Homo sapiens: one gene and its partners. The protein of the gene in region 2 interacts with the protein of the main gene of each other region in a biochemical or structural test. Each region holds a gene or a part of one and is shown on either strand. Other genes may lie near its edges. The genes, in order: TRIM55, PPARG, USP22, PAK4, MAP2K1, JMJD1C and SIRT1.

Region 1 (3,500 bases), on a different chromosome or scaffold from region 2:
CCACGAGGATGGCGATGCCATCACTGAGCTCAGACTAATGAAGAGAAAACATGAACCCAATATCTTAGGGGTTTCCTAGCCACCCCGACTGTGAATTGGTCATAATATTGTCTTTACAGGTTCTTAATTTAGGATCCATGCAACCCCTAAGGACTAACAGGGAGGCCTGTGGACCTTCTGATATTGCAAGCAAACCTTTGTGTATGAATCCATTTGTGCAGGGAAAGGTTTCACAGTTTTCATCAGTCTTAATATTAAGATCAACATGTTCAAGCTAAAGAATTCTAAGTATTGTTTATAAATAGCATGGAGACCAATATGTGACTTCAGGGACCCAAATGGAATTATTTGCCTAGTGGAACTAAGGGTCAATTTTACTTGGGAAATGTGTATAGTAAATACTCATTTATTCAACAAATACTTATTATGGGCATAAGAATATAGTGTATACAGACACAAACACTCACACATTAGACTAAGTCATTACAAACTTCACACTGAAACAAAGAACTAGTTCTAGGGGAGAAATGTCAACTTTTAAATTCCTTTGCTCTTTTGACTTAGGAAGAGATTCTATTGTTCCTATTTACCCCCTTCCCAAGACTGGCTGATGGAGCCACCAGGAGCACTGGAGGGGCACTTGGGAGACCCATGCGCTTGGTCCAACTCTACCCCCAACTTCTCTGTGATGTTGGGCAAAACATATATTCAATTTTGACCCTAATTTTCTCACATTTAGAAGGAGAAGATTGGACCAGAACAGTGATTATAAAATATTTTAAAGCTGCAGAACCTTCTTCAAGTGAAAGCTAATATGGAGGTGAAGCTGCTTTGGCCAAACAGGAGCAAGGGTGAGGGTCCCACCAGTCTGTTCTTCTGTCCATCTCACATGAGTCTCCAGGCTCTGAAGGAAGGAGTGTGAAACAGCTACCATCCAGTTCTATTATGCTATGCTTTGGGGGAGGTGGGCAGAAGAGAAGGGGGAATAAATTGTAACTGGATTCAAAAATAAACAAATGTTGTGGATAATTTGCAAAATCTGTTTCTTTAGGACTTAGTGGCCACTAGCTGTAATTGGTGTTGCCCAAGAGTTTTGCTTCCAAATTTGATTTCAGCACTGATCTTCACAGTAAAACACTGATCAAATGTGGAACTGATGATTCTAAATGAAAGAAACTGAGTAGTGGAACTGCTCAAGTTCTCGGTGCCTGGAGTGGCTGCACCTATTGGAGTACCCAACTCCACTTTTATCTGTACCAGATGGATAAATTCTGACCTGCTCATGAATGAAACCAGGTTGGCAGGTTGGTAATGTGTAGAGGGAGACACTGTCTTTCTGTCTGCTCAGAATTAGGGGGCCATGGCTGAGGCCCTGGGGTCAGGGGGAGACACCACACTCAGAGGGGTTTTTAGGCAACTGGCCCTGGTGACAGGAGGGCCAGCACAAGTCTGTGTTTTAAAGCTGTTCTGTAACTGCATGTCATCAGTGTAACCCTCCCTCACTAAGAGTGCGGGATAAAAGGCATTGAGGAGGGCCAAAGAAATCTTTCATGGGTGGATGAAGGAAAGTATTCTGTGACTAGGGTAAAAAGCTGTCCTTTTCTTATCTGTAGTCTAAACTTCACATAAGCTGGAGCAGTTTGAGCTTTTGCTGGGTCCCCTAACATTGCTCATCATCAGCAACCTCCAAAGGGCACAAAAACAGGGATCGTGCCGTTCTGCACCACTTCCTGAACCTGGGCACCCCTGCCCTGTCTCGCCTGGTCCCCCACCGTCCAGGGAATTTGGTGTGTGCCTCGTGCACAACTGTGCACATGTCTTCCTGCAGACCTTGTGTGCCCTCCAGTGTCCCATGGCCCTGCGTGGCTTGGGCTTCCTCCTCCACCGCAGGGAGCCACTCACACTGGCCCCAGGAAGGCCCTAAGGTGTGGGGATGGGGAGGGGTTGCGGGAGGGAGGGAGCAGCTCTGTTACCTTCTGTCTCTGGAACACATGAGTGAGGGGAGCCACCTGGCAGTCTTTGTGTGCACCAAACACCTTGCACAGAGAGCAGGTGGGTACTTCGCAGTTCAGACAGTAGATGTTGATGCGCTCCTCTTCATGTTCCTCGCACATGGGCTGGTCGGATTTCTTTTCTGGCCTGGGAGGAGGTAGGCAGATAAATGTCCATCAGCTCTCACTGGGGCAATCTCATCAAGGCAGAGCTGATGTTGCTCTGCCTTGCAAATTCCTTCTCTTCCCTGTATGCCCAGCAATTCTATTCCAGAAGACCCCCAGGGGCCCTTTCACATGCTCAGAGCCCACCAAATTCAGCTTCCCTGCAGGTGTAGCAGGGGAGTGCTGGCAAATCTCTAACAACCTGCTTGGGGTAGGGACAGAGACGTGGAGATCCTGATTTGTACCATTTGCCCATTTCCATGGTGTATTTCCACATGGCCAATTTTAAGTTATTTAAGGTTTCAGAATCTGGTAGTGAAATTCCTGAAAGTAGAATATCGAACCCTGGTGAGCCATCAGGAACGTGGTCCAGCACTGTGTCTACATGCTCACAAGTTTCTCAAGGGACACTTTCCCATTATGGACCAAGAACAGGAAATTGTTGATGAACTAAAAGTCGAGTTTGCACCAGCTTTTAGGAGTAGCTAGATCGCCCCCCTCCAGCCTCTGGCCCCAGGAAAGACCCTTTTCACCTGAAGAAATGAGGATAGGTGTGGCTCACATGGAACCAAAATCTTCTGATTATTAATTCAAGTACTGGTTGGATGCAAATGTGTATGAGACGCAAGTGTGGGTGTACCTCCTTATATAAACCCCAGGAATTCTGATATATCCTATCTAATGACTGAGGCTGCTAATAGTTTTCAGAAGTATTCAAAAAATTCAAATCCAAATCCAGAAGCTTTCTTCAAATTTCCAAACACATAGTTATTTAGCAACATCTTAGATTTGGGACTACATTTTGTTTTGTTGCTATACAGATCCAATTTTTAAAAACTACAGGTTTTTATGAGCCATGAAATCAATTTAGGGAGCTATGATCTGCATTGTTAAAATAAAAATAGAATGGAATAGCAAATACTGTGAATTACATGTAGTAAAAATAAGTATTGCTGTTCGAAACTTTTGTTTCAGGTGTACGTGTGTATATATGTGACTGAAACAAAAGTATATGTGTGTTTGTGTGTGTGTGTGTGTTTGTGTATGTGTGTATATACATATGTGTGTGTATATATATCCGTCCATATATGTAAGTGGTCACAATGTAAAATGCACTTCCTACTGTAAATCATGAATACAAGTGTTTGAAACCCATCTTTTTTGATGTGTGGTATCTTGTAGCTGCAGACCCAGAACTCAGAGAAAGGCAGAGAACGTGCTGATGTGCCTCTGTAAGACGCTAATGTTCCTTTATAAGTTGCTAGGTGGACGTCAATTACTTGAGATTAGGCTAAACATTGGGAGAAGCCCTGGGTCTTGTAAGAAAATTGCACGGACTTCCAG
Region 2 (3,500 bases):
CATAACCACCTTCTTAGTGCTGTCTAGGCTGTTTTATGATAGAAAGGAAGTCACCCTTTACCCAGGTATCATAATAGAGGATCCTGAAACAGTGCAGATACATACAGTGTATCCATATAAATGCCTTTTTGCCAACAGGCCTGCTCTCATTAACTTCTACATTAGGTCATCAATTGAGTCTGTTAATGACTGCTGTTATTTATTTAAAATTTTGTCCAGCTTTATTGAGTATAATAGACAAAAATTTTTAAACTTAAGGTATACAGGCCAGGCACAGTGGCTCACACCTGTAATCCCAGCACTTTGGGAGGCGGAGGCAGGAGGATCACCTGAGGTCAGGAGTTCGAGACCAGCCTGGCCAACATGGTGAAACCTCATCTCTACTAAAAATACAAAAATTGGCCGGGTGTGGTAGCACGCCTGTAATCCCAGCTACTTGGGAGACTGAGACAGGAGAATCACTTGAACCTGGGAGGCAGAGGTAGCAGTAAGGTGAGATCACACCACTGCACTCCAGCCTGGGTGACAGAGCAAGACTCCACCTCAAAAAAAACCTAAACCAAAACAAAACAAAAAAACCCAAAAAACCAAAAAACAAACAAAACACTTAAGGTATTCAATGTGATGTTTTAATATACGTATTTACTATGAAATGATTATCATAATCAAGGTAATGAACATATTCATCACTTCACAGTTACCTTTTTGAGTATGAATATGTGTAGTGAGAACACTTAACATCTACTGTCTTAGCAAATTTCAAATATACCATACAGTATCACTAACTATAGTCACCATGCTGAAGGTGACCTATACTTAGCAGATGATCACCTTAGAAGGTGACCAGAGCTTATCCTGCATAACTGAAACTCTGGCTGATATCTCCCCATTGCTCTCACCCTCCAGCTCCTGGCAACCACCATTTTACTCACTGCTTTTATGAGTTCGACTTTTTTAGATTCCACGTGGATCATGTGGTATTTGTCTTTCTGTGTCAAATACCACCCAGTTTAATTCTCTTAGCATAACGTCCTCTAGGTTCATCTCTGTTGTCGCAAATGACAGGATTTCCTTCTCTTTTTAAGGCTGAATAATATTCTATTGGGTGTGTACATATACATCTGTATGTGTATATATGTATGTGTGTATATATATACAGATATATACTGTGTTTTCAAAAATCCATTCATCCATTGACACTTAGGTTGATTTCATATCTTGGCTATTGCGAATAATGCTGCAGTGAACATGGGAGAGCAGATAGCTCTTCAACATACTGATTCCATTTCCCTTGGATATATACCCAGAAGTAGGATTGCTAGATCATATGCTAGTTCTATTTTTAATTTTTTGAGGCAGTCCATTCTGTTTTCCATAATGACTATACCAATTTACATTCCTGCCAACAGTGTACAAGGGTTCCCTCTTATCCACATCCTTGCCAACACTTCTTATCTTCTGTGTTTTTGATAACAGCCATTCTAATGGGTGTGAGATGATATCTCACCGTGGTTTTGATTTGCATTTCCCTGATGATTAGTGATGGTGAGTACCTTTTCATATATCTGTTGGCCACTTGTATGTCTTCTTTCTAGAAATGGATATTCCTTTATCATTTTTTAACTGGGTTATTTGTTTTCTTGCAATTGAGTTTGTTGAGTTTCTTACATATTTTGGAATATTAATTCCATATCAGATGTACGATTTGCAATCCATAACTTCATATCAGATGTACAGATTCCCCTATTCTGTAGGCTGGCTTTTCACTTTATTGATTATTTCCTTTGTGGTGAAGAAGTTTCTAGTTTGATGCAATCTGTTAATGATTGTTTTTAAAGTGTGCACAGGGTTCCAGGACAATTTTACTCTCTTGAAATTAGAAGCCCAAAATATTTTTCTCTTTAGGATGAAATTTTTGCTATTCTACTTGTATTTATAATGCTTTTGTGTAATAGAAAAGTTGGCAAATTAAATTTAGGTAAATGAACTTCTTCTTTAATTGCATCCTAAAATAATTTTGTTCTTAAAATAATACAAAAATAAAAAAATTTTAAAGGGAAAAATCACTCAATTATTACTTCTGTACTATGAAAAATTACTCAATAATCTTTTCTGTGGATACACCTTTTCTTAAAGCGGAGAAAGTTTTCCCCACATTGAGAATAGAAAGGTTAGAGAGATATGTGGAAACATTTGATCACACCCGAGAGTGTCAAAATCAGACTCTAGCCCAGCATTAATTTTAAACCATCCCCAAAACAAAAACAAAACAAAACAGAGATAGAAACAAGAAAACACATAAAAGACAAAGGAAAAATGCTTACATGGATTCTAAGGCCACAGAATAGCAAGTTTCATGAATCATTTGCCCAATATCATGTATGCCACATGCATTTTTCTAAACATGATTTATTGTCACAGTAAGTGCAACAAAACTCTTTTGGTTCACTTCATGTGAACTTGTGAGCCACCGAGGGTGCAGACTGGAAAACTTTCTGCAATAGGTACCTGGACTCTGTTTACCTGACACCAGTTCATTATTCAAAGTGGTGCCAAAAAAGCAGTCATAGGTATTTTAAATGTTAACTCTGTGGTCAAAAACACCAGTGGAGAGCTGTGTAAATTTAGGACTGCTCACACGGGAGACAGAGATGAGCTGCTCATAAACTCCAGGATTCATCAAATCATAGGCGTATCTTTCTTGTTTGCAGTCATATCCCCACTGGCTAACAAAGGGCTTGTCTCATAGTAGGTGCTCGTTAAATATTTATTTATTAAATACTAAATACATTGATGACTTAATGAGATAGCTGTGAAGTTTCAGCAGAAGGGGCAGGGAAGGAGGGAAGCAAATTGGTATTGATCAAGCACTTCCCATGTGCCCGGTACATCCTACCTTTTCTTCTGCATAATCTGAAATATTATTCCCACTTTATAGATAAGCAAGCTAGGACCAAAGAAGTAAAGTGAATTGTTCAAGGTCCTCTAGCTAGGAAGTAGAAGATGCAAACTCAAGACTGACCCTGAAACTCTCTTCTGTATATACATACTCTCTTGATTCTCTCATTGATGAAACAGGCTTATGGAGGAGGGGCCACTCTCCTCTGTGTATCTGTGCATGGGCCTCTTGCTTTTCCTTTTTCTTTTCTTTTATTTATTTATCATTTTTTTGGAGCAATTTTATTTTAATGCTCTCACTTTAACACCACTTGCTTTTTCTTACCAAGCAGATTGCCAAGAAATTCACTCCAAAGGCAAACTTTTGCATGAGTTGAAGATTGAAGATTTCGGCTGTCATCTTCATAAGAAAAAATGCCCTGAGGCCGGGTGCGGTGGCTCACACCTGTAATTCCAGCACTTTGGGAGGCCAAAGAGGGTGGATCACCTGAGGTCAGGAGTTCGAGACCAGCCTGATCAACATGGAGAAACCCCATCTCTGCTAAAAATACAAAATTAGCTGGTCATGGTGGTGCATGCCTGTGATCCCAGCTACTCGGGAA
Region 3 (3,500 bases), on a different chromosome or scaffold from region 2:
TTCAGCATCATTAAAATCATCAGGCCCAGAGACACAAGGCTCTCGTGAAACCAACACTTATCCAAGCTTGACCATGCAGATGCTGCACCGAGGTGCACTTTATGCTTCAGGCAGAAATCTCCCCATGTTTCGTGAGGACACTGACGCTCAAGCTGTGGAGGCCCCTGCCTCAGAGCACACCTGGGTCCTGAGGCCACCTGGCGTGGCCCCTGGTTCTTCCAAGGTGGGTCCTGAATAGGGCTGGTAATGGGAGCTGGATCTGGAGGAATGTGAGTTTGGTTTGTGACAAAGCAGATGGTGAAGGTGCTCTTCCTCCCACATGTAAAGGGTTAGCTTGAAAGGGTACGCTGAATCCATTCTACAACCTAGGCAGGTGCCTCCTCAAAAGGGACAAAGATTGCTGCTCATTATTTCATGACCAGCACCTCCCCTGGTGAGATGGGGGAGAGGAGTGCTGGGAACAGGAAGCCATGCACATTATTTACTGCATTTTCCTACAGCTGTGTTTGGCAGGAAACACCAAGATCTTTGAGACCCTGACCTTAGAACAGTACTGTCACCTCCCTCAGTACGTGACCATCGTGGTCAGACTGATGATATGGAGCTCTGACTCTGGTCTTGTTTTATTCAGGAGGTCATCTGTGTGCCACAGGGGTGGGACAGCCATGAGAGGACACCAGGAAGAGGCCGCTAACTACCAAAAAGCAACATGCTTTCCACGGTGCTGGGGCTGGGACTGTGGCCACCAAAAAATAACACCCTGCAAATAACAACATCCACGTCTCAACCCTCAGAACCTGAGACTGGGACCTCATTTGTAAAACCAGTCTTTGCAGAGACTCAAAGTAAAGATGTTGAGATGAGATCCTCCTGGATGATCTGCCTAGGTCCTAAAGCCAATGACCACGGTCATGACAGAGAAGCAGAGGGAACTGGACACAGAGTCAGGGGAGCTGGCCATGTGACCCGGAAGCCAGGGGAGTGACAGCCACAGAAGGAACACGTGGAACCACCAGCAGCTGGAGGCGGTGAGGAATGGAATCCCCAAGACCCTTGTAGGACATGGAGCCCTGCCAACACCTTGATTTCAGATTTCCAACCTCTAGAACTGTGAGGAAATTAATTTTAAGCCGCCAGGTTTTTGGTCATTTGTCACAGAACCACAGGAAACTCCTATGTGTCTCATGCATTAGTAAGCAGCTGAATTCCAAGTACCCCAGAATAGGCAGATTTGAAAAGGAAAATGCAATCTACAACTGCAAAACCAACTATGTCTGCCTGTACTTCAACATCTGTTCCACGAACTAAAATGTTGCCTTCTCGCTGTGATCCCACCTTGAGGACTTTGCCGGTTTGAAAGTGGATTGATAATTGTTGAGAAATTCAAAACAAAAACAGGGTATCTGATGAAAAACAACTCATTAACATGTGCTGTATCTTAAGATCAGGATAAACAGATTTGGGGAAGGTGGGGTTTATATTAGTATCGACAGTCATTTTTTTTTTTTTTTTTAGACGTAGTCTCGTTCTGTCACCAGGCTGGAGTGCAGTGGCGCGATCTTGGCTCACTGCAACCTCCACCTCCTGGGTTCAAGCGATTCTCCTGCCTCAGCCTCCCAAATAGCTGGGACTACAGGTGCCTGCCACCACACCCAGCTAATTTTTGTATTTTTAGTAGAGACGGGGTTTCACCATGTTGGCCATGATGGTCTCAATCTGTTGACCTCATGATCTGCCCGCTTCGACCTCCTGAAGTGCTGGGATTACAGGCGGGAGCCACTGCACCCGGCCAACAGTCATCTTAATAGGAGCTCCGAGCTGGATTCCTGTCCTGATAGGATCACAGCCCCTCAGGACACAGAACGGGCCTACAACCCCACATACCTGGAGGCCATGAAAGGGGTCATGTCCAGCTCCAGGGGGAAGGACACATACGTGGTGATCTTCCGCCGCAGCTTGGCTGAGTGTTCAAATCGCTGCAGAAATAGGAAGGGGACAGAGGGAAGAGGAAAGAAGATCAGAAATGTCACTGGAAGCTTCAGGGCCTTCTTCTGATGACAGGTGTCTGTGTTATCTCTTTTGTATTTTATTGAACTGCCTTGTAGCTACATCTAGAATTACAGATTCAAAAACACAGTGGCAATCCACCCAAGTCCTCATTTACAGGGTTCAAGTCTTCAAATGATGGGACTGTTCAGTGGTAACACCAAGGGTACAAAAAGTAATCTTACAGCAAACCCAGCAAAGCACAGAAAACAAAACAAAGATCCGTGGCCCATGGCAGCAAAAATGAACAAATTGTTCCTTTCACCAGACAGAAGACAGTCCTTTGCCTAGATCAGGAGTCACCCATTCCAGCCAGCAAGCTAGGAATGGGCGTTTTCCATGTTTAAAGGGTGGTGAAATGAAACAAAGAACATGTAACAGAGAATCGTATGATCGCACGCAGCCTGTGGAGCTCGACATCTTCAGTTATCTGGGCCTTTAGAGAAAGAGCTTGCCAACTCCTGGACCAGATCTGCATGCTGAGGGCCTTTGTCTTAAAATAAAACAGAAAACCTGAGGAGGGGGTAGCTGGAGGAATGGTAGAAGTAATAAAAACTTCACAACCACTCTGCTCCCAAGAAAACTCACATTCTACTTTCACTGCGAAGCCACTGATTTTGTTTACCGCAGCACAGACAAAAGGACAATTCACAGATGGGAGGACAATTCCCTCACACCCTCCCTTCCTCGGTGTTCTTCCTGCTTGCTGCAATTATAAAAAATGTAACTGCACAGCAAACCAAAAGGCTGAGGACCGTACTGTGGACTAAAAACTAAGTCTGCCATTAGAGTTGGCTTTCTGGAAAACTTACTTTGAGATGAAAACAGGCTACGATGGGCAGTTTCTTCATAGTGAGCTGCTTTGTGGACTCCTGGTAGCTATGGCAACCGCTGCACTTGATCTTGGCGCTGCTGCCCAAGTGCTCTGGTCTGGTGAATCTACAGGCGTTCAAAAAAGACAGGAGCGGTAAGGGAGATGCAAGAGACAGAAAAATGAGAGGAAAGAGGTATTTTATCTCTTTCATTGGGTTGATTTCCCTACCAAAAACATACACTTACAACTAAAAATGAAACAATGAAAAAAAGAGAAAATGTTGTCCACCTTTGCTGCCTGTCTCTACAGAATATTTATCTTAAATATTTTTTTTCCAGGAAAGGCCTGGGGAAATGGTAATAATTTTCTAAGTACCATATGACCCAGCAGTTGAATTTGAGCCAGAGAAATGAAAACTAATGTTCACACACAAACTGTCCACAAATGTGCACCAGAATGTTACTCACGAGAGTCACAAAACTGGAAACACCCCGTTTCTTCCCATGGCTGAATAATTAAAGAAACTGTGGAACACTGTACCATGGAGTATGAGACAGCAGCAAAAAAGGAAGGAACTACTGATCCCAAGCTGTACCCTGGATGCGTCCCCAGAGAATTAGGATGTGCAAGAAAAGCCAAT
Region 4 (3,500 bases), on a different chromosome or scaffold from region 2:
TGCAAGGACCACACGGACCCCTCAGTGGGCTACCACATTGAGGCTGCACTTGTGTCTATGGCCAACTTGTGGGCCTTGGGGCTTCTCCCCGCCAGGCTGGGCTGGGCACCGGGAGGGTGAGTCCCCAGGCACACCCATCTCCACCCGCTGGATGCAAACCTGGCCGAGTTCCCCTTGGCCTGCGGCCCCTCCTGGTCCCCACTGACCATGGGAGAGAGTCCAGGCTCCAAGGCTGGCTTCAGAGGCCCAGCACGGGCTCAGGCCAGGCCAGCCTCATGCCAGGCCACACCCAGACACCGGCTCCACAACTCTTATGATTTCACATGGAGGCAGCAGAGGGGTTAAGAGCACGGGCCTTGGAAACAGACATTGGTTCAAATCCCAACCTTGCCATTTTGCTCTAGATGGCAGGAAGAAAAAAAAAAACCCAAAACCAAAAAGCCCCCAGCGTTTCACAGGAGTGATTTTCTCCACTAAAGCCCGGCTTCCCCAGCATCTGCTGGAATTTCTCCTCCTCCTCCTCAGCCCTGGGCTCTGCCTCGGTGTCCCCTCCTCCCAGAAGCTTGCCTGGACCCCTGGTCTGTGTCAGGTGCCTCCTCCGGGCTCCCCCACCCAAGCCCTGACCACTTGGGGCTGTCACCCTCTGGGAATGGGTCTGTCTTCCACTGCCAGGAGCTCTGGAAAGGCTCAAGGTTGGGTGAGACAGGAGTGTGGTCCGGGGTACAGCAGCATGGCCCCCGGGACATGAGTCTGCGGGAGACAGCAGAGCTTGGAGGCTGGTGTGGGGGCTGTCAGATGGGCCGTGGGGGAGGCTCAGGTTGGGGTGGCATGGGTTCTTAGGACTTGGAGCCAGTGGGTGGAGGGTGAAAGGCCAGCACTGGACCCAGGATAGGGGTGGAAGGCTGGGGTTTGTCTCCATTTCCATGTCAGTGAGGAGGTGTCGGTCACAGGGTCGAGTGTGGGGTTGAGGGCCAGGGCCACTCGGGGGTTGGGGTGGGCTGGGGGAGGTGGTGGTGGGTGCCACATACCTTGGGGGCCCCGGGCTGGATGGAGGTGATGCAGGCGGGGTCGACGAGGGGCTTGGGCCGGCGAGCCGACTCCTCGATCAGGCTCTGCCACTGGCGGGGCAGCCCCGTGAACTTCTGCTCGTGCTGGTCGAAGCCCGTGTGCACGCGGTGCTCGAAGTTGGACGGCGCGGAGATCTCCACCCGCTTCTTCCTCTTCCCAAACATGGTGCCGGGGACTCGGTGCGGCCTGCGGGAGGGAATCACGGTGGGTGAGTGAGAGCCTGCCCATGTCTCTTCCTCCTCTGCCCCTGCTCTGTCCCTCCCATCCTCATCTTACACCGGGACCAACAGGAGGCAGTAGCCTCCTTCTGGGTCTCCCTGCCCACCCCCTGCGCCCATCTGTGTGGCACACACAGCCAGAGGGTACCCGTGAGCACCCGAGCGGTCACGTCCCTCTGCTCAGAACTTTCCTGCCGCTCTGTCTCCTGCGGGCCCACAAGGCCCCATCACCTCTCTGTTCTCACCCCCCCTGGAGACCTCAGAGCCTTTGCACGGGCTGGCCCCTCTGCCAGGAGCTCACTTCCCAGTGTCTGCACAGGGCTCCCCGTCCCCTCCTTCAGTTCTCAGAGCAGCAGTGACTCCTTTCCTGACCACCCCAAGGCAAAGAGCCCCGTGTCCCGCCGTCCCCCCGCTCTACATCACAGTCACAGCCCGGAACTCATGGAAATCCTGTTTGTTGTTCCTTCTTAGGTTCATGAGTGCAGCATCCACACCGCACCGCTAGAGTGTCAGTGCCACATTCTGGCTGGGTCTCGTCTGCCCCGCTTCCCCACATCCCCTGCTATGCCTGGTACATGGTGTGTACTGGATGGACGGTCACTGATGGCCTGGCCACTGCCACTGGTCCAGCCATGAGTCTGGGCTGGGGACGCCCACACCTTTGGATATTGACTCAGCACAGGGTTACTGATCCCCTGGGTTAAGAGGGCACCCCAGGCAGCCTTGTCGCGACACTCCCCTATCTTTAGGATCTGTGGTCTTCAATCGGGCCCTTGACACAGTACCAAGCACAGAGCAAATGGTCGACCAAAGCCACTTTAAAAAACAAAGGGGCTGAGGAAGAGACATTCTGATGGCGGCATCCCATAGAGAGCCTGGAGAAAGATGGGAGGGGGAGCCAAGAGGCCAGAGTTCGACTCTCCATCACATGCTGCCGTGACCTTGGGCAGGTGACAACCTCTCTGTGCTGTGGATGAACCCCCACAGGGCTGCTGCGAGGGGTAATGGGTGACTGGGAGCAAAGAGCTTGGTGCAGGGCTGGGCAAATATGGGGGGCCTATCGGTGGGGACCACTGTGATGGCTGGGGCGGCTCCCACAGTGCCTGTGGGAGGAGGGGCCCAGGTCCTGCTCCCCCCTAAGGCCCCACCCCAGCTGCCCCGGGCCTGGGCCCTGGAGTCGCACACACCTGCACACACCTGGTCTGATGCTGGTGGGACAGAAGTGCCCTCAGGCAGGTGACCACTCCTCTAGGGGCTTCGGGTTACTCATCTGTAAAATGAGAGGAATGCATCCATTCACTCACTCATTCATTCATTCATTTGGGAATAACTCAGCAATGGGCCTCCTCTGTGGCCACTGCAGTGACCCAGACAGCCTTTGACCTCATGGGAAATTCGTGTGGGGCAGACAGACCTGTCCCCATGCAGCAGCTGCCCAGGGTGGTCAGGGCTGGGGGACGGGAGCACGGGACCCAGTCTGGAGGGACGCGGGGTGGGCAGCAGGAAGGCTTCCAGGAAGAGGGGAAGAGTTGAGACCAGGGGACGAGGGGACATGCAGGTGGAGTTTCTGTTCTGTCTTGTCCCAGCTGGCTCCCCCGCGCCTGGCACAGCGCGTGGCACAGCAAGTCCTGTAGCCCTAGTGAGAGGACAGAGGACGCGCAGATGCACGTAGCCCCTCCACACCTACTTCTCCTCCCGGCTCAGGCTGCCTTCCTGGGAGCAGCTGGGAAAGGTGAGGCCCTGCCCAGAGCTAGGACCATCCATGGGAGCCAGCCAGGGGAACCGGTTTGGCAGCGGGAGCCCCGTGGGAGGGGGGTGGGGGCCCGGCAGCCAACCTGTCTCAGCTGGTCCCAAGAGGCCAGCGGGTGGTCAGAGCCGGGCCTGGCCAAGGCTCCCAGGGTTGGCCCAGTTTCCCTGCTTGCCCTGGGGCCCAGGATGGAGGGCGGACGGGGGGCCTCCTTTGTCTCTGCCCAGCCCCTTCTCTGAGCCCAATGCTGGCGCCCTGAGTGCTGCCCACCCCTCCCTCGTGGCCTTCCAGCCCAGCCCACCCCTGGTGGCCCTGACCTACTCTCTCATGGCTTTCTAGGCCCAGCTCCCAGGGTCATCCACATACCCCAACAGTCCCCATTTGCCCACTCTGCCTGCTGTCATTCCAGATCTGCGTCCCATGTCCTCCGGCCTCTCCGTCCTCCCAGATGTCCCTCCACCCCCTTT
Region 5 (4,133 bases), on a different chromosome or scaffold from region 2:
GGAGACAGACTGTCCTATGTTGTGCAGAAAGCTCCCACACCAGGTAGGCAAGCTGGCCACCAGCAAGGCCCTCCTATGAGCATGACAGCCTAAAAGTGCAGGCAGGCCCTCAGCTCAACTATTGGTATATGGAAAATGAGAAATGTTCTGTGAGATAAGAAATGTTTTGTCATTTTTCTCAGATTTGCTCCCAGTCCCCCATCAGCTGCTTTTCCCTTGTATAAAAGAGATCAAAGGAATATACAGGATCTATTCACAGGTCCCACAAGGAAGGTGGTTGGAAGAGTCACAGATAAGGGTGTTGGGTGAGAAGAGCTGGACTGAGTCCAGAGATTGAAATTACAGGAAGCCCCATTAGTCCAAAGCACTGAACTCGGTGTCCTGTTTCTGCCTTCCAGCCTCCTCCTCATCTTCACCTTTCCCCCTCACCAGTGTTGCTTGGCTAAACCAGTATTTCTTGTGTACTAAAGAAACTGAAAAGCTTACCACAAAAGCAAAAGTAGCTTTCATCCTTTTTTTTTTATTTCATAGTATATTTATTAGAATAAGAGATTAGATTTGTTAAACATCTAGGTTAAAATGGTTAAAAGGATTTTCATACAATTTTAGGCACTATACACGTTGTTTACAACAGCATTGGTACTTGGATATGGGGAAAGATAAATCCGACATTTTAATATCTTGATCAATTTGTGACATTCAAAATAATTCCATTTAAGAAACATTAATCAAAACTTAAAGAGACATACCACTAAGTATCCCACACAGTATACTGAAAATAAATATAGAAATACAACCAGAAGTCTACAGATCACCACAGTAGACAGACTGGTGAAGCCCCAGCTATCATGGCAGTGAAGGGCTCTGGCTAGATTTGGATGTCAACTGCTGAGTTCTACATGAAAAGCAAATAATAATAATAAAATAACATGATGTACACTCTCTGATGCTCATTTTCATAGCAGCAAAGCATGCTTCACATGCACTGCCTGTGAAGGATCTCACAAGGCTCCCTCCTAGAGAGAAAGTATGCCCAGCAAGAATAAAGTACCACCAAATGTCAAAGAATCCCGAAAATACAGGCAGACAGCCAGTCATGGAGCAGGAACAGCAGTGCAATTGTAAGAATGACTACCCACATTCACCAAAATTTCACTGTAATTCAGCCTGGCACAGGTTTTGATCATCAGCATACACACAAATAGCCCCAAGCACAAAGCCAATCCACTTAGGGGAACAATAATAGTAATAAGAATAAAGACAGTAATATTAAAAATGACAAGAGTAGAATCTTGGCACATGCTGTGTTCTTCATCCTTTGTCACAGGTGAAATGCACATCTGAACAGAGACAGGCATGGGAAGGAGGCCCAAAAGCGACATGGCAAACCACCGGGCAGGGGACTCGCTCTTTGTTGCTTCCCAAACACTTAGACGCCAGCAGCATGGGTTGGTGTGCTGGGCTGGTTAAGGCCGATGGTGGAGCAGAGCCAACCTGCAAAATCCACTTCCTCAGCATCAGATCTCTTGATAAAAGCATGAACCTGCATGTAAGGAAACGAGAGGACGTGGTGTTAAAAAGAAACAAAAAAACAAAACCCACCAGGAAGGAAAATCCAAGAGTTTCAGGTCTAGAGCTTGTGCTGCACTTGGAAAGAGCACCTGGCACCTGCCCCTGAGCAACAGTGGGGCCAGCTGCAGGCCCAAAGACCTGCTCCACCAGTCACAGCAGCTGTGAGGCCTTGGGCAAGTCACCTCTTGGAGCCTACTCGTGCAGTATGGAGACAGTAACTCTGCCTTAAATGCCTCACAGGCTTGTTAGAAGGGACAAAGAAAATGATGGACTTAGTGCATATTATATACTATATACACCGTCTATGGCTGTCCAGATATTTACAGTATTACTTAGCTATTTCCACTGCCACCAAACGAGACAGCAGGCGGAGAGTGACTCTGGAAGGAGGCTGAATGTAAGATGAGGCAGTCAGTATTAGGGAAAGGCCGCATCCCCATGAAGGGGGTGGGCTGGCCTTTTCTTTCCCATGGCCCCCTCAGGCATTTCCTCTGGCATATGCTTACTCAGGCTGCGGGGGTCACCCCAGCTTTCCCTTAAACTGATGGGAGAGCAAAGGAGACTGGTGTTTGGTATTCTGCAGCCCCAGGCTCAGCTGGACCACAGTGGGCAGGGAATGAATGGGCTCTGGAAGTACTGCACAGATGACTGACAGAGAAGAACAAATGAATAAACAGGTACTGTAAGAATCCGGAATAAATAGACTCACCATGAGTTGCTTCAAATCTGCTCTCTCTGCGGGGTTTTTTATTAAGCTTAAAGGAAGAAAGACAAGGTAAGAGCTGTTGCCTGGCACTGGTTCTAGCTCAAATAACATGTTTGCATGCCTGTCTTCTCTGCACACTAGAGGCCGAGGATTGCCTGGGCTTGATTCATCCTCCTGTTCTAAGCACAGTATCATGCCCACAGTAAGTTAATACATTCTTGCTGAGTTAAACTAAGGTCAAAAAGCAACGTGCCAATCCCTGGAGAGCAAGTACCAAAAGGAGCAGCTACTACATCCATGATGTAGTTAGACATGCCACATAAGTCTTGGCACTCTAAAAAAGGGCTTATGGCAGCAGCCAAGAATCATCAGACGGGAGGGTAAAGGGCAAAACTCTGCCTGCAGAAGCAATGCTGGTGCTTCCAGAAATGGGGTGGGGAGCCTGACAAATCCAGAGTATACGCTTCCAGAGAACAAGGAGCCAACTTACCATTTATTCACAAAATCTTGAAATTCCAGACTGAACACTCCACTGGGCAGTTTTGGAGGAGGCTGCAAACACATGTTGAGATAAGAAAAATGCCTGGCTCCTTGCTCCAGCCATCTCCTCTCCCCATCCCACCCCTCCCACCAGCCAGTGCTACTTTTTTTTAAAGTCTTCTCTGCAGTCCAAAGGCAGTACTACTCTCATCCAGTCAAGGAAAGGCACAGGTAGAAGGCCAGTGCTGCCTGTTGGGTAACCATGTTGGAACCACTGATCTCAAATAGCACATTTAGAATTGGGACCAAGTCAAGTCCACTCACTTGTCGGGTGATTTTGAACTAATCACTATTCCTCTATGAGCCTCAGTTTACTCTTCTATGACATGAAGAGGTTGGGCCTAATGATCTCAGGGACCCTTTCAAGCTCTGACACTCTACAATGGTAAATCTTGGAGTGCGGCATGGGAACGTAACCAGCAATTTACTGGCAGCAACAGCTAGGGGCACGTGCAAACCACCAGGCATAGCCCAGGTCTGACAGCACCTGCAGAAGCAAACCGGTTTTTAAAAATCCCTTTTCTGAGCCCTAGAGAAGCAGTGAAAAGTTAATAAAACATTAACTGACAGAGGGCTGGATCTGGAAGAATGTTACCTGTACATTCCAGAAATGAGGCTGTTTTCAGATTTTCCCATGGTGATCATGCAGCACTATACAGTACAAGGCTCTGGAGCACTGGGCTCATGGCGTTCCATGCAGTCCAGGAAATGTGGGCCCACTTATGTACCTGGGCTGGGAGCTGTGTGTACCCATGCTGACCCACAGACATAATGTCCATGATGTCACTGCTCTGATGTACAGCCCAAAATCTCGTTTTTAATTTGGGACTAAAAATGAGACACTGATCCCCACCACAAAGCCCAACCTAGTGCTCTTCCTTTGAGGGCCATGTCAGTCTGATCTTAGGTGAGGACTAGAACTCAGCTCTTAGAACAGTGACCCAGAGCAAGCCCCATTCTGCAGACTGTCCCCACTGCTGAGGGAATCAAGGGACCATTCAAGGAAGAGAGGAGACCAGCAGCTTGGCCTCCAGAGGCAGCATCCATTCCTTCTGAACAGGAAAGAGCTAGGCAGCAGAGGGGCTGTGTGCCAGCAGAGGCTGCAGTAGAACAACTGCCATGCAGCCAAGCCTCCTAGGAGGTAAGAATGGGAGGTGGGAGGTGGCAAGGAAGAAAGAGCACTGGGTGGGAAGGACCTGGGCTACTTTTCATCTCGGAGGCTCAATTTCCTCACCTGTTTGAAGAGGAACCAATTTGGCCTACCTCAGCAATGCTTGGGAGAATTGCATGGGAAATTAATGTGAAAATTTGGAAG
Region 6 (3,500 bases), on a different chromosome or scaffold from region 2:
AGTATACAGACTTTTTATCAGGCTTTAAGCATACCTCCTACCTTTCTTCAGCATGCTAGCATATCAGGGGCCTGTCTAAAGAAAGATGGTATGTAATTTATATAACTGTTGATCCACAAAACATAAAAACTAAAATAAATACCTAGTTTAAAATACCTAATTTTTCCAGCACCGGGAAAAATGGCATAGAATAGATGCAGTGGTTATGGAGGGTGGGATTAAAAGTACACAGTGGATTCCTATAGGTGGAATGGGGCTACTACAGCCCAGGTTAACCCTTAAAATTAACAAGGTGTACCAGGGAAACCAGAAAAAACTCAAAAGCTGCTTTGCCTCAACAGTTGGTTCTCCACCTTTTCCACTGCTAAGTAATTGAGATGTAGCTGATGTATATTAGTTTACCAAGGAAACTTTCTCACATTTTATATAAGTATAGTCATTGACTGTTTTAGCATTTATGGCACTCTTCCATACAAATACTACTTAGGTGATAATAATTGCTTAGCTTTTAGGATGTGTCAGATTCAGGGTCAGATTTATCATTATTAGATCTCAAATGGCATTTATGATACAGTAGTAAAATACAAATGTCATAATAATAAATACCTTTTTCTCTATGATAATTTCCTGGAAAAAATGTATTTACATTAAGTGGTTATATTTTCCCATGGACTTATGATTATTTCAGAGATGTCATATTATTTATGTTTCATGTTTAATCTGGGATTCACCCTATACACCATTTCTTTGACTTCTAGACTCTTAGCAGAAAATAGCTAATCTGTATTCAAATGTAAATGCTCTCAAAAGAAGAGCCTATTTAAGAGACTAGTATTATAAATCTTTTTGTACATAGGAATAATCCTTTGATAATACAAAGTAGATTCCCTTGAAGATCTTTATTCACATATTGAATTTATCCAATGTCAGTTTTTATAAAGTTAACCTAGGTAGTGTAGTCATTTTTGTAAATTGAGATATAATTTGCATATAGTGAAATTTACCTTATTTAATGTATAATTCTGTGAGTTTCAACAAATGCATAGTTAGGTAACAACATAATCAAAATGTAGAACAATTCCATCACTCCGAAAAAATTCCCTCTTGCAGTTTTTTTTTTTGTTTTTTGTTTTTTGTTTTTTTGAGACAGAGTCTTGCTCTTGTTGCCCAGGCTAGAGCTCAGTGGCGCGATCTTGGCTCACTGCAACCTCTGCCTTCCGGGTTCAAGCGATTCTCCTGCCTCAGCCTCCCGAGTAGCTGCGGATTACAGGCATGCACCACCACGCCTGTCTAATTTTGTATTTTTAGTAGAGATGGGGTTTTTCCACGTTGGTCAGGCTGGTCTCGAACTCCTGACTTCAGGTAATCTGTCTGCCTTGGCCTCCCAAAGTGCTGGGATTACAGGCATGAGCCACCATGCTCGGCATCCTCTTGCACTTTTATAGTCAGCCTCTTCCCACCCAAAGTTCCTGCAACTAATCTGCTTTTTTGTCCCTATAGTTCCTCTTTTATGAGTATGCTGTAAATTTGGACTCACACAGTATGTACCCTTTAAGTCTGGCTTTTCTTAATGTATTTGAGATTCATTCCTATTGTTGTATTTATCAGTTGATTCTTTTTTTATTGCTGGGTAGTTGTATGAATATTTTTTTCATTTTTTAAATCCGTACATTCACCAGCTGAAGTACATTTTGGTTTTTTCCACTTTGGGGCAATAATAGATAAAGCTATCATAAACATTCATATACATGGTTTTATGTGAACAAAGATTTTTATTTCTGTTAAGTAAATACTGAATGGTGGGATTGCCTGGTGATACTATAATGTATGATTAAATTTAAGAAACTGCCAGACTATTCTCTAAATTGGTTGTTCCATTTTCATTTCCCAGTGCAGGGTTATGTGAGTTTCATTTCCTCTGCTTCCTCACTAGTGCTTGTTACTGTCAGTTTTGTTTTTAGACCATTCTAGTAAGTGTACAGTGGTGTCTCATGGTGGTTTTACTTTGTACTTTCTTAATGACTAAACATTGGGCATCTTTTTATATCTTCATTTGCCATCTGTATATCTACTTTGGTTAAATATGTGTTCAAATATTCTGTCTATTTAGCTGCTTTTTTTCTTACTGAGTTTTGAGTGTTTTTTGCCAATTTCTGATAATGTCTTTTATCTGATAATGTGTTTTACAAATACATTTTCCTTTCCTGTAGCTTCTCTTTTCAAAGAGCATTTTTTTTTCATTTTTCCATTTTTTAAAAGACAGTATCTTGCTCTGTTGCCCAGGTTAGAGTGCAGTGGCACAGTCATAGCTCACTGTAATCTCAAACTCCTGGGTTCAAGTGATCCCCCCACCACACCCTCCTGAGTAGCTAGTACTGTAGATGGACACCACCATGCCCAGCTGATTTTTTAATTTTTTGTGGAGATGGGGTCTTGCTGTGTTGCTCAGGCTGGTCTCGAACTCCTAAGCTCAGGCAATCTTCCTGCCTTGGCCTCCCAAAGTGTTGGGATTGTAGGCATGAGCCAACCCACCTGGCTGGTTTTTTCCATTTTGATGAGGTCCAGTTGATCAGTTTCTCTTTTATGGATGGTATTTTCATAGTATCTACAAAATTGTTGCCTAGCCCAAGATCACTCAGATTTTCTCCTCATTTTCTTCTAGAACCATTATAGTTTGAGGTCCTACATTTGGGTATGCAATGTAGTTCATCTTTGTATGTAGTGCATAGTATGGAGCGAGGTTCAATTTTTTGCATATGGGCATTTGGCTGTTCCAGTACTATTTGTTGAAAATACTACTTTTTAATGTTTTTCTTTTGAAAATGTAATACATAAACAGAAAAATTCAAAAGTATAAAAAGTTCACGGTGAAAATTCAGTATCTCACATTTTTCCCCCAGTTCCTTTTTTCCAGATGCAATCATTGTTACCCCAAAGAGATTCCATGCTTACACTTGTGTCCCTGCTGCTACTTTTTTGGGAACAGTGGTCTTTTAGTAGGCTCAAAGTGACCTTGTTAAAAAGTTAGGTTGGTTTACATATCCACACTTCCCCCTCTGTCTCACTGCCTTCATCTCGTATGGCTCTCCTAGTTCCTCTCTAGCCATCCTGCCCTCTTTGCTTCTTTCACACACACCAAGTATGTTTCCCCCCTCCCCCAGGGTTTTTGTGCTTCTTAATCTTTTTTGCTTGGAATCGTTTTTCTGTCAGGTATCTGTAAGACTTGCTTCTTTACACTTTTTTAGGCTTCATTCAAATTTCACCTTCTTGGTGAGGTCTAGTTTAAAGCTGTAAATTGTGTCCCCCAACTTTCTGTCGTCTTTCCTGCTTTATTTTCCTCCATTTCAGTTGTCACCTTAAAATATGCTTTATAATTTACTCACTTTGCTTGTCTTTTAACCCCCACTGGAACGTAAGCATGATGAAGTAAGAGATTTATCTTTTCCATTGCTCTCTTCCCATGCCTAGAATAATGCACTTAATGTTTGTATTATTAATAA
Region 7 (3,500 bases), on a different chromosome or scaffold from region 2:
TTTTTCAGTTTAACAATAAAAAATGTATTCTCCATAACTAGTGAGTCAAGTTTTTTGTAGTTGATTTAAGATCAAAGTAACTTCTAGTTACTTGCTGGTCTTCTGATAGTGTCAATGTCTGCGCTACGTGGAGATTTTATAAATGCCAGTGTCCTAGCTCCAATTCAAGAAACCTTTAAGTCATACTTCACTGGTCTTCAAAACCATGCAGTAGTGCCACTAGCAGGAGTAGGTTAAAACAGTAAATCTTCACTAATCCATAATTAACAAAAAATAACTTTACATTATTTATTTAATCCAGGTATGAACCAGTTGTCTGCTCTAAAAGCTAGATATAGATGACCATCATCATTACGGATATATGAAGTAAAAAGTTCAAATTATATAAGTTTTAAGTTAAAAATTCTCTTGATAGCCTGAAAACTTTTCAAATTCAGTTTAGTAATCATATTCAAGAATTAATATAATTTTCCCACTTTACACTAATGCCCATTTAATATACCACAACCTGGATAAAACAAAAGTTACATGGGGTGGAGGGGTGTAGTGATTAGGGTCTCACTGTGTTGCGCAGGCTGGTCTCAAACTCCGGAGTTCAAGAGATCTTCCTATCTCAGCTTCCCAAAGCACTGGGATTATAGGCACGAGCTACTGCATCCAAAAAATCACTTTTTTTTTAAAGACAGTCGCCAATTTAAGTAACATAATTTATTCTGAATTAGCAAAGCTTCTCCTGTAGTCATGTAAATATACCACATGGTCTGAAAGTAGATAAGGCCACTGTTTAGTTAAAATTTAGGTTCATCGGCAGGGCGCGGGGCGCGGTGCCTCGCACCTGTAATCCCAGCACTTTGGGAGGCTGAGATGGGCGGACCACAAGGTCAGGAGTTCAAGACCAACCTGGCCAACATAGTGAATCCCCGTCTCTACCAAAAATACAAAAATTAGCCAGGCATGGCAGCACGCGCCTGTAGTCCCAACAACTCGGAAGGCTGAGGCAGGAGAATCTCTTGAACTCGGGAAGTGGAGGTTGTATGGTGAGCAGAGATCACACCACTACACTCCAGCCTGGGAAACAGAGCCAGACTCCGTCTCCAAAAAAAAAAAAAAAAAAGCTAGGTTCATTAACTTCTGGATTCATTAAAGAAGTCCCTATTCACAACTTCTAACGATTAGGTGGGGAAAAAGCCACTAATACAAGACTCCTTCGCTGGAAGCCATCATCCTCAGCAAACTAACACAAGAACAGAAAACCAAACACCACATGTCCTCACTCATAAGTGAGAGTTGAACAATAAGAACACATGGACACAGGGTGGGGAACACCACACACAGAGGCCTGTCAGGAGGTGGGGGGCAAGGGGTGGAAAAGCATTAGGACAAATACCTAATGAATGTGGGGCTTACAACCTAGATGACAGGTTGATAGATGCAGCAAACCACCATGGCACATGTATACCTATGTTAACAAATCTGCGCATTCTGCACATGTATCCCGGCACTTAAAGTAAAATAAAATAAAATGACTCTTTCAAATATATATACCTCCAAGTTTAACAATAACAAATTTTGTAATTTCTTTCCAAAAGACTGAAATACAGGAAAGAAAACAGTTTTCTAATGACTCAATCTCTTGAGAATGGTGTAATGCATTATTAAACTTTCTATGCTAAAGCAGAGCTGTACAATAGGTACATAATGTGAGACATACATATAACTTTAAATTGTTTAGTAACCACATTAAGGTGAAAACTGGCCAGGCGCGGTGGCTCACGCCTATAATCCCAGAGCCTTGGGAGGCCGAGGAGGGTGGATCACCTGAAGTCAGGAGTTCAACACCAGCCTGGCCAACCTGGTGAAACCCTGTCTCTACTAAAAATACAGAAATTAGCTGGGCATGGTAGCGGGCGCCTGTAATCCCAGCTACTCAGGATGCTGAGGCAGGAGAATCACTTGAACCTGGGAGGCAGAGGTTGCTATGAGCCAAGATCATGCCATTGCACTCCAGCCTGGGGGACAAAGGAAGACTACTTCTCAAAAAAAGAAAAAAAAAAAAAGTAAACTTCAAAAAACATACATATATTTTGGAAACACTCTTGCTCTGTTGCCCAGGGTGGAGTGCAATGGCAGATCATGGTTCACTCAGTCTTGAGCTCCTGAGCTCAAGGGATCTTCCCACCTCAGACTACTGAGTGGATGGGTCTACAGGTGCACACCACCATGCTCAGCAAATTTTATTATTTATTTTGTAGAGATGGAGTCTCATTATGTTGCTCAGGCTGGTCTCAAACTCCTGGGCTCAACTGATCCTCCCACCTTGGCCTCCCAAAGTGCTGAAATTACAGGCATGAGGCAACACGCACAGCCCAAAATACATTTTATTTAACCCAATATCAAAAGTATTTCAAAAGAATTCAAAATTAATTTTAAGTATTTTTTCCATATAAAAACCAATATTTGTTTAATATTTGATGAATAAAACTAATGAAATACTTTGTATTTTCCATACTGGATCTCTAAAATCCAATATGTCTTCTACACTTATTGCACATATCAATACATTTCAAGTACTCAACAGCCACATGTGGCTAGTGGCTTCTGAACTGGACGGTGCAACTCTAGAGCAGAATAATGATCCTCTGCAATTTGCTGACAAAAATGCAACCCAAGAATCTTCCCATTCTCTAATTACAAATGATTTTTCAGGCACATCCTTATGTTAAAACTTGACTACGAAACACCAAAGTGATGTTATAACCTTTACAATCTCTAATAAAATATTAAAAATCACAAGTTATGTTACTTTTATATGGTGTGCAAACCTCTTAAAAAAGCCCAGGCAGAATAACGACCATCGCTGCAGTGCAAATTTTAAAAATATGAACTATCTCTTTGAAAATAAGCTCACTCCTAAAATGAAGTAGATAATAGTCCTCCTCTAGGAATAAAGGAATTCTAGCCATAATGAGTGATCTTACTCCGCCACAGTAGCAGCATTCACTTTACTAAACAATGAACGATAACCTTAAGGTGGCTGTATGTGAACAAAATACTTTTTCATGAGAGAAGGCCAAAGAAACAACCAGAAGAGTTCATAGTACCTTTGCAAACTTGAAGAATGGTCTTGGATCTTTTCTGAAATATTCAATATCAAACATCGCTTGAGGATCTGGAAGATCTGGGAAGTCTACAGCAAGGCGAGCATAAATACCATCCCTTGACCTGAAGTCAGGTATTCCACATGAAACAGACACCTAAAATGTGCATGGCATAATTTGTAAAATTAAATCTTCTACCTTTATAGGAACTAGCTAGCTCTCTTACCATATAATTAGGTAAGAGTTGAGAAAGAAAATTTTAGTCTGAAACTTCTTTTAAGAAATAAAAATACAACCCTACCCTTATTTCAGAAATAAAACTCCCAAATAACTGAGTAAAATTAAACATACCTCATATTCCATCTTTAACACAGATAAGGAATTTTTAAGTCAGGCCAATTT

The links.
Region 1: of the proteins of PPARG (region 2) and TRIM55, one has a biochemical effect on the other in vitro, tested with the Homo sapiens proteins (one study listed by BioGRID).
Region 3: the proteins of PPARG (region 2) and USP22 form a complex in vitro, tested with the Homo sapiens proteins (one study listed by BioGRID).
Region 4: the proteins of PPARG (region 2) and PAK4 form a complex in vitro, tested with the Homo sapiens proteins (one study listed by BioGRID).
Region 5: the proteins of PPARG (region 2) and MAP2K1 form a complex in vitro, tested with the Homo sapiens proteins (one study listed by BioGRID).
Region 6: the proteins of PPARG (region 2) and JMJD1C interact in a test that uses a peptide from one of them, tested with the Homo sapiens proteins (one study listed by BioGRID).
Region 7: of the proteins of PPARG (region 2) and SIRT1, one has a biochemical effect on the other in vitro, tested with the Homo sapiens proteins (one study listed by BioGRID).

What each region holds. Positions count from the first base shown.
Region 1 is NC_000008.11:66,133,629-66,137,128, reverse strand, and holds part of TRIM55 (tripartite motif-containing protein 55), read right to left. Parts: intron 2,140-3,500; coding exon 1,974-2,139; intron 35-1,973; coding exon 1-34. UniProt on the Homo sapiens protein: E3 ubiquitin ligase that plays an important role in regulating cardiac development and contractility, muscle growth, metabolism, and fiber-type differentiation.
Region 2 is NC_000003.12:12,376,070-12,379,569, reverse strand, and holds part of PPARG (peroxisome proliferator-activated receptor gamma), read right to left. Parts: intron 1-3,500. UniProt on the Homo sapiens protein: Nuclear receptor that binds peroxisome proliferators such as hypolipidemic drugs and fatty acids.
Region 3 is NC_000017.11:21,005,012-21,008,511, forward strand, and holds part of USP22 (ubiquitin carboxyl-terminal hydrolase 22), read right to left. Parts: intron 2,986-3,500; coding exon 2,859-2,985; intron 1,977-2,858; coding exon 1,885-1,976; intron 1-1,884. UniProt on the Homo sapiens protein: Deubiquitinase that plays a role in several cellular processes including transcriptional regulation, cell cycle progression or innate immunity.
Region 4 is NC_000019.10:39,167,286-39,170,785, reverse strand, and holds part of PAK4 (serine/threonine-protein kinase PAK 4), read right to left. Parts: intron 3,480-3,500; exon of another isoform or gene 3,400-3,479; intron 2,923-3,399; exon of another isoform or gene 2,701-2,922; intron 2,557-2,700; 5' UTR 2,484-2,556; exon of another isoform or gene 2,474-2,483; intron 2,162-2,473; exon of another isoform or gene 1,946-2,161; intron 1,255-1,945; 5' UTR 1,233-1,254; coding exon 1,029-1,232; intron 1-1,028. UniProt on the Homo sapiens protein: Serine/threonine-protein kinase that plays a role in a variety of different signaling pathways including cytoskeleton regulation, cell adhesion turnover, cell migration, growth, proliferation or cell survival.
Region 5 is NC_000015.10:66,487,912-66,492,044, reverse strand, and holds the end of MAP2K1 (dual specificity mitogen-activated protein kinase kinase 1), read right to left. Parts: intron 2,831-4,133; coding exon 2,769-2,830; intron 2,328-2,768; coding exon 2,282-2,327; exon of another isoform or gene 1,544-2,281; coding exon 1,430-1,543; 3' UTR 501-1,429; downstream 1-500. UniProt on the Homo sapiens protein: Dual specificity protein kinase which acts as an essential component of the MAP kinase signal transduction pathway.
Region 6 is NC_000010.11:63,172,478-63,175,977, reverse strand, and holds part of JMJD1C (probable JmjC domain-containing histone demethylation protein 2C), read left to right. Parts: intron 1-3,500. UniProt on the Homo sapiens protein: Probable histone demethylase that specifically demethylates 'Lys-9' of histone H3, thereby playing a central role in histone code. Demethylation of Lys residue generates formaldehyde and succinate.
Region 7 is NC_000010.11:67,891,156-67,894,655, reverse strand, and holds part of SIRT1 (NAD-dependent protein deacetylase sirtuin-1), read right to left. Parts: intron 3,255-3,500; coding exon 3,102-3,254; intron 1-3,101. UniProt on the Homo sapiens protein: NAD-dependent protein deacetylase that links transcriptional regulation directly to intracellular energetics and participates in the coordination of several separated cellular functions such as cell cycle, response to DNA damage, metabolism, apoptosis and autophagy.